Linked DNA regions of Homo sapiens: region 1 is linked to region 2. Evidence: fine-mapped expression QTL. A gene starts in region 2. The other region holds a variant in brackets. All regions are shown on one strand. Distances are between the middles of the regions.

What was found. PIP is the estimated chance that this variant, and not a neighbour inherited with it, causes the effect.
Region 1: its variant is fine-mapped to the expression of BSDC1 in tibial nerve (GTEx, PIP above 0.99). The same link has a PIP of 0.9 or more in thyroid and whole blood.

The regions. Positions count from the first base shown.
Region 1 is chr1:32,365,229-32,368,135 of GRCh38, forward strand. BSDC1 (BSD domain containing 1) reads right to left here. Exons shown (of 11, transcript NM_018045.8): 11 at 1-1,426. The coding sequence ends at 1,394. Among named protein-coding and RNA genes, the nearest start is that of TSSK3, 4.1 kb to the left of the region's middle. The variant A/G (reference allele first, on the strand shown) is at 1,463.
Region 2 is chr1:32,392,955-32,395,861 of GRCh38, forward strand. It overlaps BSDC1 (BSD domain containing 1), which reads right to left and starts at 1,487. Exons shown (of 11, transcript NM_018045.8): 1 at 1,450-1,487; 2 at 1,126-1,186. The coding sequence starts at 1,460. RefSeq lists enhancers at 528-1,225, 1,213-1,502, 1,226-1,921, 1,793-1,872, 2,620-2,907.

The DNA.
Region 1 (2,907 bases), 28 kb before region 2:
TTCCTTTTTTCTTTTCCCAGCTACAAAATACTCTGGGGAGATGCATTATAATTTAAAATATATAATATTGCACAAACAACCAAAAGGTTAATTAAACTAAAGAAATAATTACAAAGAGAAAAACCCCATCCCGTCAAAAAAAAGATTCAGCATTCTCTCCATCCCACCCCCTCACTGAAGGTTTGAAGTGGAAGTGACCTCACTCTCTCGGTGTCCCTGACCCACGATCCCTTTCACTCATTGGTGAGCACACCAGATTAGGTACAAGAATCACCAGAGCAGCATCGTGAAGCACCAGGCTCTCCAGAGATTCCTGCAGCCCCTCATTCCCCCAGAGGTGCAGCTTTACCAGAGTGGAGGGTGAGAGCACAAAGGCTGGGTCTGTCTTCAGGAAGAAGAGCTTTTGCAGAAGCCTGATGAGAGTTTCAAGTTCACCCCCAGGATAGCCCTTCCAGAAGCAGAAGGGCTGAGGCGGAGAAGCTAGGCTTACCAGAGTTGTAAGTACTCGGCTTTGATCACCGCTCTGTACCGCTGGTAGCTGTTTTGTGTCCTAAACTACAGGGGAGTTGAGGTGGGTAGCTGGTTGGACAAGGTATCCTGCCAGGCAACACACAGAAGGGCCTGAAGTAGCCCCCTCCCTTCTTGGGGAGGGGAAGAAACGCAAGAGCGAACTCCTGCAGGTGGCACAGCTGGGCTAAGGACTTGGGTGCATCCGACATGAAGAAGCCCTGGGAAGGCATGGGGACAGACCAGCGTGGGCTGGAGGAAAGGAAGGAGGTGGGTCAGGGTTTGGTCTCTGGATTCTGAACCCCAAAGGAGCCTTTCCAGGAATGGAAAATGCCTGGGAGGGGGAGAGTCCCAAGAGAGGCAAATTTCCCAGAGATAAGTGCCTCTTACCCACTGGGATAGGAACCAAAATGTGTTCACTGTCCCTGTTTAGCCAAGGGTAGGTGGCATGGCCCTCCCTGCCTGCTTATGTATGGACAGAGTATGTTGTCTCAGCTTCCTCCGAGAGAGACTGGTGGTTTAGCTTCTGTCTACACAGGCAGAAGGGCTAGAACTATCCCTTGGGACTTCCCAGCAGGAGTCCTCAGGAACAGTGGGTGTTCAGCAGAAAAACACAGGCTCTTCTGGTGAGGAGGATAGGTTTCCTCTCCCTTGGGTCATCCTATTGTTGGCACAAGTCAGAGTTTCTGGCCGGGATTTAGAGAGCCCCTTCCCAGGTGTGAGCAGAGGCCCAAGAGGGCCAGCAGGGAGCCACCAGAATCTGTGCCCAGAGCTCTGGTTGGCAGAGGAGATTTGGGGGAACATTCTCAGTCTTCCAGGGCTGGGCTGAGACGAGCGAGGGAGGCGAGAGATGCCATGGGTGGGGGAGCTGCTCCCTCTGGCTCCCTCACTCCCAGTCCTCCCACTCTACATCTTCCAGCTGCAAATGGGAGGGGGTAATGGAAATCACAAACAC[A/G]TAGTTACTCCTGAGTCAGGCCCAGACCTAACCTCCACTTGCTGAGCAGAGCCACCTCCCATCCCCTACCCCAGGCCATACTCTGAGGTCCCACTGAGAGTGAACCCCTAGTCTTAAGGAATGTGTCTGAGGGGCAGAGCTGCCCTCTGCCTGAGGGGTGGGCCTGATGCTCTGATTACCTCAGACCTAAAGGAAACACTTCCCCCAACCAACACCAGACACCACAAGGTGATGGCTGCCTACAGGAACCAAGTCAGCCTCAGTCCTTTAAGGAGAACTTGCCTCCTGCTGAGCAGATAATGCCATGGCTCTGAGAAGCAGAGAACTCAGGAGGCCTGAGCAGATACTTGGCCCTGGACACAAAAGACCAGTGTAATCAAGGGCAAGTTACTTAGTCTTTGGGTGAATGGAGGCCACTGCCTGAGTGGCACTGTGGCCAAAAGCAGAGGTGGCAGTGGCCTACAGATGCCCACTAGGTCTTCACTAGGGGCACCAACACCCTAATTCCCAGCTCAAGTCTCCCCACGGAACGTTTTCTTGCTTTGTTCCTACTCTTGGCCTGCTGTCGGCTAAGCCCTGGTATAGCAGGTTCTAGAATGCTCACGTGTACTGCACGTCAGGTTTTAAAGGGGGCTGCAAAGACACAAAAAGCCAGCAAGCCCCTGTGGCCTGACAGGGCACTATGGGCTTTCTCTGTCCTGGGTATAGTGAGGTAGTCACAAGTGCAAAATACTCCTGAGTAGGTAAAATACTCCCCCAAGGCTTCAGTTTCCCATCATGAAAAAGGAGGCCCTTCACATGTCTCTCTAATCTGTCCACCTCTTTCTAACAGGCTCATAAGTTACATGATGGAAGGACTCATGTGGTTCTTATGTGACAGTGGAACTAACGCTGACATGAATCAGATGTCTGGGTTGCAGCCTCAGTCCTGTCACTTATTAGCTGGGAGAGCTTTGGACTGTTCCAGCCTCTCAATCTAAATGAGCCACTTTTGATTCTGAGAGGTAGTGAAGAATAACAGTACTAAGGCCTCCTTGAGCTTAATAACTGGAATGGGTTTTGTGGGGTTTATCACTAATGTCTCCTGAGTGCTGGTCACCATGTCTCAGGCAATAGCCCTAAGGTGTCTACATGGATCACCTCATTACAGCTTATAGCCAGGTCTTATAATGATCAATTCCATGTTTTAGATGAGGAACCAGGGGCTCAGGTTAAGTAACTTGCCCTTGCCCTTGATCACACTGGTCTTTTGTCTCCAAGGCCAAGTATATACTCAGGCCTCATACCTGAGGACCACAACTCAGAAGGTCAGGCAGGGTTTGATGTCTGTTTTCTTTTTTCCTTTTTTTTTTTTTTTCAAAAACAGAAATGGGGTCTCACTATATTGGCCAGGCTGGTCTTGAACTCCTCGCCTCAAGCAATCCTCCCACCTTGGCCTCCCAAAG
Region 2 (2,907 bases):
TCGGGAGGCTGAGGCACAAGAATCACTTCAATCTGGGAGGCAGAGGTTGCAGCGAGCTGAGACCGCACCTGTGCACTCCAGCCTAGGTGACAGAGTGAGACTCTGTCTCAAAACAAAACAAAAATACTCCCAGAGTAGAGGACTTATTTAGGTGAGGTCAGAAGCTTCCTGGAGTTGGCCCTGAAGCAGGACTCATCCCAATTGCTTGAGGTAAATAGTAATCAACTTTTCCCACAATTCAGTTGGGCTGATTTTGACAAATAAGCATGAAATGAAACAGGAATACACATTGGCAAATTACCCACTGGCACAGCCAAATATCACTCATCCCACAGAGATTGTTCAGCAAGAAGGCCTTCCACTCTCTGGTGATTAATCTCTCTCTCTCTACTGCCCGTTGCATAGCCCCTACTTAGAACTCATCAGGCACCAGTGTGTATGGCTCATGCTCATCTCTGGCTTGGGTTCTTGCTTTTCATCCTGTCTAGGCAGGGTTGCCCTTGATGAGGTTCCTTCTCCACAGGGGCCTTCCCTGGTGAGTTACTGACTAACCAGAACAGACAAGGTGCCCCTGTACTTTCCTTTCACAGAACTTACCACAACGGTAACTAAACAACTATTTGTTTGGCTACTCGGTTAATGGCTGTCTCTCCACTAGACTGTGAGCTTTGTAAGGCCCAGGATTACATCTGTTTGGCTGAAGTCTGTATCCTCAAGACCTATCAGAGTGCTGGTTGTCGCATATACTCTAATATTTGAATGACTATACGAGTAAGTTTTTTTACTGCTAGAATCTTTTCCTTCAAGACCTGTATCAAATGCTCTCTCTTTCACGAAGAAACTGAATTTCCTGAGCTGGAATAAATTGCTCCTTCCTATGGATTCCTACAAAACGTTCGTTAACTCCAGCCTTTAAAACCATCTTTATTTCACTGTGGCTAGTATCACACTGGTTTGCGTCGAGGTCTGTCTTCCCGTGGACCGGTAGAGGCTAAAAGAAAGGCCCAGGTCAGCCTCATCCTTGAGACTTAGCGCCCGCAAAAGTTGGGCGGGGCTGGTTGGACCAGGTTGCATTGAGGCGGCGCAGGGCCCTGCTGAGGGAAGAAGGGCACGGGCCCGGCTTACCTTCTCTTTGACTGCTTGGTAGCTCTGCTGCAGCCAGCTCCGCCACCATCCCACGTCCTCCCTGTGGAAGACAGACACATCTGGCAGCACCGCGGTGCGATTCCTGCCCGCCCAAGGATCCGGTTTGTTCCCCGCTCAGATGTACCCTGCGGGCCGAGGCTTCGCAGACCGCTTGCCCACCCCCTCACAATGCGACTCCACTCTGCCCTTTCAGATCAGTCCACGCCCCCGCTGATCTCACGTTCCCCACCGGGACTCTCGCCCAGCACCCCAACCCTGGGAGAATTCAGGCCCCAACGCCTAGGAGCAAAACGACAAGCTCACCCTTCCGCCATCTTGCCTGCATGACATCACCACTATTTACTGACCTTTGACTTCCGACACGGCACCGCCCCCTCAAGGACCGCCCCCGAGGCGCTCGGCCCAATCCTCGCGCCGGCACCGCCCTCAGCCCAATCCCCTCCCTGCGCCATCATTAGGTCCCGCCTCCCTGAACTCTATCCAGTCTCTGTCCCGAGTTCGCCCTCAAACTCCGCCCCTGAACTCTCAGTTCAATCGTCATTCAGTCCTGTCCTCAGGCTCCACCAAGCTTGACTCTTTGTCACTGTCCGCAAACGTCGGGTACGGTGGCCTCTATGGACGATGATCAGCCGACAAGCTGGACTGCGGAGAGCTGGGAGCAGAGGGGAGGAGGAGAGATAGCTCGAACGTCAGGATCCCAGAGCGCAGGGTTAGGACCGCCCCCCTTTGTGAAACCAGCTGCGTAGAGGCTGCTTTGTGTCTCTTTGGGCTAATTCAATAAGCCCATATTGCGGGGCTGTGGCCCAGAGTTTGGAGGAATGTGAATAATTCAGAGGCGACTTAGATGCAGCCTTTGGAGGGCTTACGGGTTAATGGGAGACACACACATTCAGTAATCTCAACTTTCGGTGGCCCAGCTCAGAACAACGCCAGGTGGAGGTGGTCTGGAGAAATCCGGAGACCGCCTGGATTGAGTTCTACTGCGATTGGAAGGGAGATTCCACAGCCCACATACTTTGGACTTTAATTAAGGTCAGCCCCTCCACGTGTGCGGTAGATCCCATCGCCTCTTGTTTGCTTAAGGACATAGATCTAGTAATCCCCCCTTCATCTCTTTTCCCTCTGATGACTGCATTTATCCTTGTCATCATCCGTACTGCTGTTTCTCCCATCTCAAAGGCAAACAAAAACCAGCCCTCTCTATATCCCTCACCGTTTCCCTACTCCCCTTTACAGCAAAAGCGTTGCCTACTCACAGTCTGCAACTCCCCTCTCCTCCCATTCTCTCTTGAACTCACTGCAGTTAGGTTTTTGCCTCTCAGACAATCCTTTGAAATAACTTTCTTTTATTTATTTAATTTTATTTAATTTTATTTATTTTATATTTATTTGTAGCTCTGCTGCAGCCAGCTCCGCCACCATCCCACGTCCTCCCTGTGGAAGACGGACACATCTATTTTATTTATTTATTTATTTTTGGTCCTCCCTGTGGAAGACGGAAACATCTATTTTATTTATTTATTTATTTTGAGTCAGAGTCTTGCTCTGTTGCCCGGGCTGGAGTGTAGTGGTGCAATCTCAGCTCGCTGCAACCTCTGCCTCCCGGGTTCAAGCGATTCTCCTGCCTCAGCCTCCCGAGTATCTGGGATTACAGTTGTGCACCACCATGCCCGACTAATTTTTGTATGTTTAGTAGAGATGGGGTTTCACTATGTTGGCCAGGCTTGTCTCGAACTCCTGACTTCAGGTGATCTGCCCTCC